Linked DNA regions of Homo sapiens: all the other regions are linked to region 1. Evidence: fine-mapped expression QTL. A gene starts in region 1. Each other region holds a variant in brackets. All regions are shown on one strand. Distances are between the middles of the regions. Region 1 holds the start of MAGI1 (membrane associated guanylate kinase, WW and PDZ domain containing 1). Region 2 overlaps MAGI1 (membrane associated guanylate kinase, WW and PDZ domain containing 1). Region 3 overlaps MAGI1 (membrane associated guanylate kinase, WW and PDZ domain containing 1).

What was found. PIP is the estimated chance that this variant, and not a neighbour inherited with it, causes the effect.
Region 2: its variant is the best candidate, but not a certain one, in a credible set for the expression of MAGI1 in cerebellar hemisphere (GTEx, PIP 0.67).
Region 3: its variant is the best candidate, but not a certain one, in a credible set for the expression of MAGI1 in skeletal muscle (FUSION, PIP 0.56).

What each region holds. Positions count from the first base shown.
Region 1 is chr3:66,037,173-66,041,282 of GRCh38, reverse strand. MAGI1 (membrane associated guanylate kinase, WW and PDZ domain containing 1) reads left to right here and starts at 2,365. Exons shown (of 23, transcript NM_001033057.2): 1 at 2,365-3,287. The coding sequence starts at 2,975. LOC105377128 (a long non-coding RNA gene) reads right to left here and starts at 2,330. Exons shown (of 2, transcript XR_001740440.2): 1 at 2,085-2,330; 2 at 989-1,231. RefSeq lists a silencer at 2,278-2,397 and an enhancer at 3,350-4,110.
Region 2 is chr3:66,014,936-66,019,045 of GRCh38, reverse strand. All of the region lies in intron 1 of MAGI1 (membrane associated guanylate kinase, WW and PDZ domain containing 1), which reads left to right. It overlaps LOC124900543 (a long non-coding RNA gene), which reads left to right. Exons shown (of 2, transcript XR_007095951.1): 1 at 1-4,110. Among named protein-coding and RNA genes, the nearest start is that of MAGI1, 22 kb to the left of the region's middle. The variant A/T (reference allele first, on the strand shown) is at 2,124.
Region 3 is chr3:65,448,606-65,452,715 of GRCh38, reverse strand. All of the region lies in intron 6 of MAGI1 (membrane associated guanylate kinase, WW and PDZ domain containing 1), which reads left to right. Among named protein-coding and RNA genes, the nearest start is that of LINC02040, 280 kb to the right of the region's middle. The variant C/T (reference allele first, on the strand shown) is at 2,050.

The DNA.
Region 1 (4,110 bases):
TTGACAAATATTTTAGCATTTGCTAGTACGAGGCACCATTCTAGGAACTGGGAATAATACATCAGTAAACCAAACTGTCAAAGTGTCCTGACCTCCTTGAGTTTTTATTTTACACAGAGATGTGGATCACAGGTTTATTTGACAAAAAGGTCTGGGACCCAAACAATGCTTTGGAATCAAGATACTAAACCTATGGTGCTCAGCGTTGTGTACCAACAACACATAAGGGGAACCTTAAAAGTTCAAATGACTTAGCCCTTCCTTGACATTCTGATTGGCTGGATCTGTGCTCGGGTTTGATAATTTATGTTTTGAAGTGCTGTTCATATTGACCTAGATTGCTTCTGAAAAAAAGCTGGAGACAAAGTTCCTCTCACCAAGCAAAGCCATGGAAAATTGGTCACCTCCTTTTTTCAGAAACACAACAATGCAATGGGATTTTCAGTTCTGGATATCCCAAGAGAGAAGCATCAACATCCCTCCTTACTTTTATTAGCTTAGAATAGCACCCTACAATGCTTTAAAAGGATGTTTAAACGTATGCCTAAACCAGGTATGGTGGCTCACATCTATAACCCCAGCACTTTGGGAAGCTGAGTCAGGAGGTTGGCTTGAGCCCAGGAGTTTGAGACCAGCCTGGGCAATCAACATAGGGAGACCCCCCCATGTCTACAAAAAATCAAAAAAATAAAACTAGCTGGGCATGGTGGCATGTGCCTATAATTCCAGATACTCAGGAGGCTGAGGTGGTAGGATTGCTTGAGTCCAGAAGTTCGAGGTTACAATCAGCTAGTCGAGCTACTGCACTCCAGCTTGGGGACAAAGCAAGACCACGTTTCTAAAAACACCACCACCACCATCAAAAAACAAACACACAAAGTATGCCCATATTTTCTAAGTTCTAGAAAGGAGAGGATAAATTATCATACTTACTAACTTGAATCCCCAAATGATTTCCCAATTTTCTTCCCAAATAGTAATACTACTATTAAGAATATAATGAGTTTTTATTATTTGCCACTTTATAAGTGTTTTCCCACGTAATACTTCCAAGAACCCTGTGAGGTCTTGTTCTACTTATTTGATCAGCGAGAAACGGAGGCGCGGAGGTCACCAAGCTTGCTCAAGGTCACACAAGGGTGGACCCCTGAGCCTACCTCTCAACCTCGACTGCTGTGTCCATCCTTTCTTCATCGTTTCAACGTACCCCCCTCATTTCTTGGAATCTCTCCTGTGACCAAAGATGAACAAAATTATACATCACTAAAGAGGAAAACAAACTGCTGGGGAGACTACTCAGCAGCCTGATTTGAGGAGTATTTGGGAAGGGCAGCCTTCCTGTGGTATGGGAGTCTTTCTGTCCGCCACCTCGCCGGGACAGAAGTCACTCCATCCGCACCCCCGGGCGACCTCCGGAGGCCGCAGCTACCCCCGGGCTGCGAATTCCGAGTTCTCTCACGCCCCCGCGGGCGCCAGGACGCAGGGCATGTCCGCGCCCGGCGGGGATCCTTATCTCCTGGCCCCGGAGTAGGTCCGCAGGCTTCTCGGCCCTGCCAGGAACTTGAGGCCGGGGCAGATGATTGACTGGGTCCAGCAGTCTCTGCTGGCAGGGCAGTTGAAAAGCTAGAGGGATCTCTTTTTTGGTTGAATACCTGAACCCACACTAGCACCATGGCTTCTCTCTCTTGCCTGTAGTTTCCCGTGTCCTAAAAAGTTGGTCCCAAAGTTTAAGGATGCGGGTGTGTGTAAGAGCGCGTGTGACCCGCACAGGGATCCCAGTTGGGGAACCGGAGGATCCCACCGTCCCCCTCCCCCGGGTCGCAGAGACCCTGGCAGACCCCGCGCCAGGACCCGAACCCGCAAGCGCAGGGCAGGCAGGGAGGCGGCGAGCGCCCCGGGGCGGGTCTCGGGGGTTTCAGTGGGACCTGCGGCAAGGGGGGCGGCGAACCAGCCGGGCTGGGTGACCGACAGCCTGGCCAGCCACTGGCCGAGGGCGGTTAGGAGGCTTAGGGCCGGCGCGAGTGCGTGCGCGTGTGCGTGAGTGTGAGCGCCAGGGTGAGTGTGGCAGCCTCCCCAACCCCCACCTGTTTGAAATGGTTTTCAAATGCCAAAGCCAGATTGCCCGGGTTTCAAAAGTTGCAAACAGTTGGAGTAAAACACGTGTGCGGCCCTCCAGCCCCAAAGGAATCCGCGGAGTCCAGGGCACTGAAAGAAAAGGAGAGAGGATAGGGGTTCAGGAAGGGTTGGGGGGGAGTTGCCTTCTCCCGGCAGGTCGGTTTTAGGACCCATCGGGAAGCACGTTGGAATCTCTCCCTTCGGGGAGGAGGGGAGGGGTGGGCCGGCCGGCTGGCGGCCGCGGGGCGCATGCGCGCGCGTCTCCTGTCGCCGGCCGCTGCGCTCCGCGGCGCGGAATAGAATGAACTGTAACAAAACAAGCCGAGCCTTTGTATCTGCTTAAAGGGGCCGCGAGCACTTACCTCCCGCCCTGCTCCCCGCCGCCCCGCCACCGCGTCTTCAGGGCTCCCGGCAACTGGCTGGAAGGGCTTCCCTCACCCTCAGTAACAGCCTGCCAGCGAGGAGAGGCGAGCCGGGCGGGAGGCAAAGAGGAGGCACCGCATTTGTAAAAGGCAAGAGAGAAAGGAAGGAAGGAAAAAAAAATAACCCGAGCGGCGCAGAGTGGACTCTGGTCCGGGAGAGCACGGGCGGGCGCCGGAACGTGGACCCAGAGGCACCGGAATGCAAACAAAGCTCGCGGGCGCCTGTGCGGGGCTCGCGGGGAAGCCCAGAAAGTTTGTTTTATGATGGCTTGAGTGCGCGAGCGTGTGCAGGGGAGCGAGGCTGCCAAGTTTCTCTCTCCTGTTTTGTGATTTGGGGAGAGATGTTTCTCCCATGAACAAGCGGAGGCTTGGGGGCTCGTGCTGTGGGGGGCACCTGTCTCTCGTTTTATTTTTTTGGAGGAGGGGTGTAACTCATCATGTCCAAAGTGATCCAGAAGAAGAACCACTGGACTAGCAGGGTTCACGAATGCACCGTGAAGCGGGGACCCCAGGGCGAGCTGGGGGTGACGGTGCTGGGAGGCGCGGAGCACGGGGAGTTTCCGTACGTCGGAGCGGTGGCGGCGGTCGAGGCAGCGGGGCTTCCCGGCGGCGGCGAGGGCCCGAGGCTGGGCGAAGGGGAGCTGCTTCTGGAGGTGCAGGGGGTCCGGGTGTCCGGCTTGCCCCGCTATGACGTGCTGGGGGTCATCGACAGCTGCAAGGAGGCCGTCACCTTCAAGGCCGTCAGACAAGGTAAGGCAGGGCGCGCCTTTGGGGGGCGCCCCGAGAAAAGGAGGGTGGTCTGTGGGCTGCCCCTTATTCTCGATTTCCTGCTTCCCTCCTCGGAGCGCAGTGAAGAGAAGTTGAGGCCGTGCGCCCTGTGGTGGCGGTGAAATACACAAAGTTGTTGCGAGGTTGAGGGTTGTTTGCCCACCTGCGTTTCGAAGAGGGGGCTGGGTTTGCGCAAGGTAGCGGGGGGACGTTTCTCAGGCCTGGCTGGCCAACCTGTTATCTCCGCCACTAAGTGCAGCGCAGTCTCGCCTGCACCCGAGAGAGAGTTGGGGAACTGAGTCAGGGGCATGGTGGACGCTGTCCTGGCTCCTTGGGGGAGGGATGCAGCTGGCGTTCTTTGGCCACGAGTCAGTTTCCATACCTGCTGAGTGGGTATACAGAAAGAGAGGGTCTGTAGTTTATTGGACCTCCCCCATCAGAAAATCTGCTTCACCCCGCGACCCCTCCAGGTGAGCTAGGACACCACTGCCTGGCGGTTCCTGAGCCCGCCGCCAGAAGAGCCTGCATTCACCCCTCAGCCGGATGACGCATGTGTCTCCACCGTGTGGCTCAGCCATACACTTGGGAGGGGGAGAGGGGGAAGGGGTGCTTGCTTTTAGCTCGAATCGGGTCCAAGTTTACCCTCCCACCACCACCATCATCGTCATTATTGATGATGAAAATGAAGCTACTATTCATTGTTGGTTTACTACATGCCCGGCTCTGTGTAAAATACTTTACTTGCACTATCTCACTCCGATTCACAACAGTTCTAAGAACGAGTTGTTCTTATTTATATACCCCA
Region 2 (4,110 bases), 22 kb after region 1:
GAGCAGCATAAACATTTGTGGAATGAATGAGTGAATGAATGAACCAATCAAGATGGCATCCTTCTTGGTGTGGGTAGGTACCTTCCAATTGGATATGGCTCAGGGAAGATACGAGAATTTACCGGAAGCCTTGAACAGTTCTGGGGAACAATGGAGACACACTGTGGCTTCCCAAAGGGAAGAGCGAGAGGTGATCAGACAGCCAGTTCTCATTCTTGCAAAACTTGACAAGCAATGACTTGAAAGAGGAGGATGGGAGGTAAGTAATGAGACCAACCCATGCTGTGCTGAGTGAGGTGAGAGTCAGAGCTCAGGTGGCTGATTAAGACCCCGAGCACTCAGAATGCAGAAGGCTGCAAAGAGGGTCACCAGCCCATCAGCGGCCACCAAAGGCTGTACCAAGTCCACCTGGAACCTAGCCACAAGGGATGGTGATCATGATCCATGTGAGGCAAGATAGTTTACTGGTTACAGTGGTCACTGGCCTATTTTCAATTCCTTCACCGGCCCTTACCGGCTGTGTGACCTTGATCACTTGCTTAACCTCTCTGTGCCTCAGTTTCTGCATCTATTAAAAAAAAAATGCCTGGCTCTTTGTGCCTGGCTGGAGGCCACTTAGCCTAGAATTTTGGAATCCCAGGGTTTAACTCCTGGCACTGAATACCCTTGTTGGAAGGTAGAGAATGGGATGTCACCTCTGGGGTACTAGAGTATGGCCAAATGCTGTTAACCAGGCAGTCAGTCTTTGGAAGAAAATACTCTGCTTTTACATCCCCTGGTGGTAGCAGAAAGTTACACGTGTGAAAATATGCAGGGGCTGCTCCTGTGTGTGTTGGGGTGAGGGTGTAGTGGAGGTTAAAGGTATTTTGTTCCAGCCAGGCTTGTAAAAGAAAACAACATTAAATGGGCATGTGCAGACACCCCCCCCCCCCACCAAAGTGTCCTTCCTTATCTTTGTCTCCTGGTTGTGTGTTCATGAAGCACAACCACCAAAAATTGTGGACCGCATCTCTGACCAAGATCAAAGGAGGAAAAATAAATGAGTCCAAGACAAAGCAATTTACAGATATTAATTCCCAAAGAAGAGTAAAGATGTTTGCTTTTTCTCTCAGCTTGTTGGTTCTCAGCATTCTCATTGTTTAACTATTCTAATGGTTTCTGCCTCCTTCTTTGTGTTTTCCTAAGAGTCCTTTCTTTTCAAAGTTGGGATGACTTCCAGCTCTCACCTGCCCAATCTGTCCTGTCACCTGGCTGTTGGGCTTCATGTATGAAAGTGAAAACCGAGGAGAGTAGACCTATACGGATGATAACAATAGTGGAGCTTGATTTAGTGCCTCTCTACTCAGGCTTTGCACTGAGGGCCACACGTGCACCATCCTTCATCCTTAGCACGTGCTGTGAAGTGTGTGTACCATCCTCTCCAGTTTAGCGGTCAGAACCCTGAGCCTTGGAAGTTGTTACTTGTCTGAGATTAGGTGACAGCAGATTAGGTGACAGCGGTGGGTTTCCTCTAGCTTGGTGTTCGTCAGGAGGCTGCATTGTTGCCTGGTGACAGGTGGCAGGATCCCCTTCAGGGTGTGATGTACCATTGTGTGAATTAAGGGTAGGTGACCCCCTGGAGTTTGATCTGAAGAAAGCTGAGGCCAGGCACCCTTCCTTGCACCCTCCGTTGGGAGGGAGACGTTGGTGCCTTGGCGATGGTTTCACTGCGAGCCTGGCTCATTGCAGCGCGGAGCTTCCCGGTTTTTCCATCTGCAGCCGCGCCCTGCGCGTGTTGAGACACAAGTGCTTGCGTCTTCCCGCACTGACTAACTCCTACTTTCTCCTTGGGGTTCCCGGCAGTGCAACTTGGCACTTCATGAACGTAGCAAGGTTCTATGAGACTTAAACAAAATTGTGGTAAAATATACGTAACATAACATAAAATTAACCATTTTAATTATACAATTAAGTGGCATTAAGTATATTCAGGTTATTATGCAGTTATTACCACCATCCATCTCCAGAACTTTTTCATCTTCTCCTACTGTGCCTATTACCAACTCCCCATTCCCCTTTCCCCTGGCCCCTGGTGACCTCTAAATTTCTTTCTCTGTGAATTTGACTACTCCAGATACCTCATA[A/T]AAGTGAAATCGTACAGTGTTTACCCTTTTGCGACTGGCTTATCTCAATTAGTGTAATGTCCTCAAGATTCATCCACGCTGCAGCGTGTCAGAATTTCCTTCCTTCTAAAGTCTGAATAATATTCCATTGTGTATGTACCCCATTTTGCTCACCCTTCATCTGTTGATGGAGATTGGGTTGTTTCCACCTTGTCCTATTTGACTTTTATCTTCCCACTCCCCTTGGAAGCAGGTGGAGTCAGATTTTCTTGATGTCCTGACCTCCTCCATTCTGCTTTTCTTTCTTGCTCAGTTTTGCCTGACTTTCCCTGGGTCTCTCCGGAGCACCACTTACCCAAAGTCTCCAGCTCCGGTGCTGGGGCACATATTGCCAGAGTAGAGCCTTGCCAGCAACGTGTCCTCGTCGCTTCTTTGCAAAGGGTGTGTGTATTGGTCAGCTGTTCTTCGGTCCCGCCATCAGCTTTGACCCAGTCGACCCTTCCACCTTTCTGGCTTGGAGGCTGTATGCTCAGTAATTATGTGCACAGGATTTGAATTTCATGTAGTCCGGGTTCAAATCTGGTCCTGCTGCTTCCTTGCTATGTGGCCTTGGGTACATGTTTTTACTTCTGTGAAGTAGCAGTAATAAGAGCACATATCTTATATGATTGCTACAGGGATTCAATGAAATGATGCAGTCAACTCTCGGCATGGAACACAGAGCAAAGGCAACACTGAATGACTGATAGTTATTACCATATTAATTTTGTCAGTTTTCCTCCTTTGAATCTGATCACTTGATTCTAGGCTTGTGGAGGCGCTGAATAGACTTCGTAATTGACTCAAAACACTTCTGTTTTAACACTCTGGGTTTTTATCTTCTTTCCTGGCACCACTACCTCCTTTGAGATTTTATAGAGCTGAATTTGTTGGACCAAATTATATGGAGCATATTTGATAGAAACACATTCTAAGTATACTGTCTTTATGTCCTCATGTTATTTCCTTTCGATTTCTTGAAGTCTCAATTTAGTCACCACTCTGTAGGAAGCTACAAATGATGATAGAGCAATTAAGTGATCCCTGAGTCTTTAGTGTTCTAGAATGATTGATGTACAGATAGAAAGAGAGAAAATGCGTATAGACATTTTCCAATAAACTTTATGTCAGGGTAGTTTCCTGGTTTGGTCAATTTTTCTTTCTGTTGATTATTCCAGTGTAGATGGGATAAAAATTAAGCTACTAGACATTTATTGCTTATAAACTTTTTGGCATATTTAAAAAATATCATCTAATTGTTATTTTAAGGCAGTAGCTATAGAATATCTAGCATATATGTACCCCTTACTCTATGCCATCCTTTGCTGGAAGTGCTTTTTATCAACTCATTTACTTCTCAATCAGCTCTATGAAATGTGTTATAATCATTCCCATTTTTGAGAGTAGGAAATTGAGGCACAGAGGAGTTAAGATTTTTTTTTTTCACTGCTGTTAATGGTAGGCAAAGTTGGGAAACAAACCAGGTTCTTAGGTTCAGGCTGGGAGGGGGTTGGCTGCGTCCACAGTTATCAATGAGGAAATGGATGCCTGCAGGACGTAAGGTGCTTTACTGGGCTCAGCAGAGCCAGGGCTTTATATCCAGGTCTTTTATATATCCAAAGCTTATTTTTATTTACCATAGCTGTCTTAATTTATCAATTAGTACGTGTGTATTATGTCTTTGTATTTCTATTTTTATTTTTTAGATTTTTTTTTTTTTTTTTTGTAGAGACAGGGTCTCACTGTATTGCCTAGGCTGGTCTTGAACTCCTGGGCTCAAGCAATCCTCCTGCCTCAGCCTCCCAAGGTGCTGGGATTACAGGCATGAGCCACCCTGTCTGGTCTGGGAGAGGGTGCTGGGTGAGGGGATGGTGGTGGGGCAGGATTAAACAGTGCTGCAGGCATTCCCAGAAGGAAAAGATCATGTAGCGATGATTTGTTGTCAGTTAGGGTTAGAACTGGCCTTAAG
Region 3 (4,110 bases), 590 kb after region 1:
GGTGTTACCTAGAGCACCACTCTCCCTGTTAATCTTGGAAATGAACTAACTGGCTGTAAGAGCTTTTGTTGAAAAAGTTCATTTCAAGGCTTTGGGTTTTCTAATTACTTCTCCAAAATGAAAAAAAAAAAAAATTGAAACAGAGCTAGTGTGTCCCTTTTCAGTACACCAACGTCTATCCCAAGTTCTACCAAAATTATTTTTTGATGTGGAAGAATGAAAAGGGAAATGGTTTGCTTCGCTCTGCTTTGCTACTCATTATTCAATTCTGGCATGTGAATTAGTAGTATAATTATTAAATATGTATTTTACTGTAAGATAACAGAACTTTATTATTCGTCCTATAGTGCAGAATGGTTGTATATATAAACTTGAAGATTTTTTGAAAATGCAAGGCAGTATTTTATAGTATAATACTGTGAAAACCTTGCACTCCATGATCCTTCTATTATACATGGTTTGCAGATTACGTTAAATGACATAGACTATTGTGTTGGTATTTATCTGAGTTACTTCAAATGGAAACAAAAGTCCTTCTAACTTAGGAGGCATGACCAAGATGTTTGTTTTATCTTGGTTGCTTTGTTTTATCTTGGTTGCTTTGTTTGATTCCTGAAGAAGGAATAGAACAGGTTCATTCAGCTCTGGTATTTTGCATGCTTGGGAGATAATAGACTATACTGATTATTTCAGTATTCTGTTTAACATGTAATACTGGTTAAGTATCCCTGATCCCAAAATTTGAAGTCCAAAATGCTCCAAAACTGGCCAGGCATGGTGTGGCTCATACCTGTAATCTCAGCACTTTGGGAGGCTGAGGCAGGAGGATCACTTGAGCCAAGGAGTTCAAGACCAGCCTGGGCAATGTAGTGAGACCTTGACTCTACAAATAATAAAACAAAAATTAGCTAGGCGTGTTGGCATGCGCCTGTGGTCCCAGCTACTTGGGAGGCTGAGGCAGAAGGATCACCTGAGCCCAAGAGTAGGAGGCTGCAGAGAGCTGTGATTGTGCCACTACATTCCAGCCTTGGTGACAGAGAGAGACCCTGTCTTAAAAGAAACAAACAAAGCAACAACAGGCTCCAAAATCCAAAACTTTCTGAGTGTCACCATGATGCTCAGAGGAAATGTTCACTGGAGCATTTTGGATCTTGGATTTTCGGATTAGGAATGCTGAGCCAGTAAGTATATTACACAAGTATCTCCAATCTGAAAATATGCAAAATCTGAAACCCTTTTGATTCTAACCATTTTGGATAATGACTACTCAACCTGAACATAAATAACCAGTTTTCAAAGATCATAGCATAAAACACATTCAACCCTAAAATTTCATGGAACAATAATCATTATTTGATGCCTTATGATTTTGAAAGCAATTTAGGCACTTATTACCATAGGGTCTTCAATGTCAATATCCCTTTTGTAATTATTCTGGGAATGTATGAAAATGCTTGTTAATACAATATTATAAGTGATAGAATACTGCAATAGCTTTTACTGAGAAAAACTGTACATAGAGTGAAAGTATTGAATGGAATTGGCATTTTTGTTACCAAATCTAGTAATTTTTAATTCTTAAAATTCTTATCTTTTTGTGTTAATGTTATTTCCTTTGGAACAAGAATGTATTCATACCAAATGCAGTTAGTTTATAATTATCTCTTTAATATTAGAATTCATATATTCTGTTTCTAGTAGAAATTCTATGTATATCTGTGTGCCTGTACACACAAACAGTATAAATATATAATCAGATTATGGTAAGTATCAGTTTGCATTTTCTGTTGCCAGTTAACGCAAAGCTGCCTTGTTATTATTTATAACACAAAGCAGAAAAACATATTGGTTGCAAATATTGTCCCTGTATTTCTTTCTGTTCTCTGTAGGTCATACATATGAGGTGTAACAGTATAGCATCATACTTAATTATTATAAAGATTTAATATGTTCTATTTCCTATCTCAGAAAATCGAGAAACTGGTTTGAGATTTTGATGTTAGTGAATGACTCCTTCTGTCACTGCTGTGTCCAGTTCAGTTAGAAGCC[C/T]TCAGTGTTGCCTTTGAACTCCAGACCAATATTGTAATCCATGTGATTGATAATGTCAACGATTGTCTCAAAGATACTTCGACTTAGTCGTATTAAAACCATTAAAACTGATGATCTTTCCCCCCAAATTACGTAATATACAAAGTGTTTCCTGTCTCCATTCATGGTAAATTTATGCATACTCAAAATTCCCCCTTGATATGTCACTTTTCTTCACACCTATTTCTAACCCGTGAACCAGCTGAATTCAGTTGGCATCCTAAATATCTCTTGGATCCATTCACTATTTTTTTCACCGCATCTTCCATTCTCATCTGGGATCATGCTCATCTCCCATACAGACTCTTTTCACTCTCCTTTTTATGTTGTACTCGGAGAAATCTTTTAAAATGTAAATGTGATGATGTTATCGCTGACAACCTCCACAGGGTCTGCTTAGGAAATGCCAGGTCCATAGCTTGCTACTCTGAGCCCTGTGTGGTCAGCCTCTCTAGGTTTTCTCACACTATTTCTCTGCTCTCTGCTCTTCATCCCCACTAGTCCTCATTGAGTTCCTGCCTCATGTCAGTTAAATGTGCATTTCTCTCTTAGAATACGCTTACATTTCACTATACTCTTATATTTCACAATAGTTATTGAATAATTTCTGTATGTCACGTGCATCCTAGGTATTCGAATGTGTCAATGAATACAACAGACATTAAACTTTGCATATCCTTCAGGTTATACTTCAGGGAATTTTTCCATGACTTTGCCCCCAAAAATATGATTAGGTCACTCATGTATCTTACTCTGTTGAGAACTTATCATGGTTTTAATTTTAGTTTTATTTGTGTGAGCCTTGGATTTGTCTCCTGTTCTGGAAAAGTAGAGATGTCTGATTCTGTTTTTTGAGATGGAGTCTCGCCCTGTTACCCAGGCTGGAGTGTGGTGGCATGATCTCTGCTCACTGCAACCTTTGCCTCCCTGTTCAAGCGATTCTCCTGCCTCAGCCTCCCGAGTGGCTGGGATTACAGGTGAGCGCCACCTGCCTGACTAATTTTTTTGTATTTTTAATAGAGTCGGGGTTTCACCATGTTGGCCAGGCTGGTCTCGAACTCCCAACCTCAGGTGATCCACCCACTTTGGCCTCCCAAAGTGCTAGGATTACAGGCATGAGACACCACGCCTGGCCCCTGATTGTGTTCATTTTGATATGTCACCTAGCACAGTGACTGGCACATCATAGGTCTTGATAAATAACTACTGAAGAAGTGAACAAATGCTCCCAAAGACATTAGATAATATCCAAATGGGCATTTTCACAGATGACTTTGTGTAAATTAGATTCTCCTTTTAAGAAACGGTGCCAATCAAAACTTACCGCTGGCAGTGGGATCATTTTTTTATTATTATTATACTTTAAGTTCTAGGGTATATATGCACAACGTGCAGGTTTGTTACATATGTATACATGTGCCATGTTGGTGTGCTGCATCCATTAACTCGTCATTTACATTAGGTATTTCTCCTAATGCTATCCCTCCTCCCTCCCCCCACCCCACAACAAATCAAGAGTTTACAAGGTGTCTAGGCCCATGTTGGTTATTTAAGTCAATCATTGATTGATTGGTTCATTCATTCATTCATCAAGAAATATTTAGTACCTAACATGTGCAGAAGGCTACACTGGGCACTGAGCGTATTGTGGTACTGAAAACAGGCTCAATTCCTGTGTTTGTGAAGCTTATAGGAGCCACTTGCCCTGACCCTGGGGAAACATTATGTATGAAATGATTTTTGTGTGTTCTCCCATGTTTTCTTCTCAACAATAAGAAAATGTTGTACTGACAGCAAGAGGACGAGGTCAAGAACAGAAAGGATTTGGACTTGTTTTGCTCCCTGAAATTTTTGAGGACATTTTAATTCTAATATTTCTGAGCTCCTTGACTTAGAAAGTGTGTGTGTGTGTGTGTGTGTGTGTGTGTGTATGTGTTTTCTCACAAAACCAGTTAAATGCCTCCCAACACTCCTTCAGGGCAGTTTTCAAGGCTTTCTTCTTTGATATATTTTATCTTGACG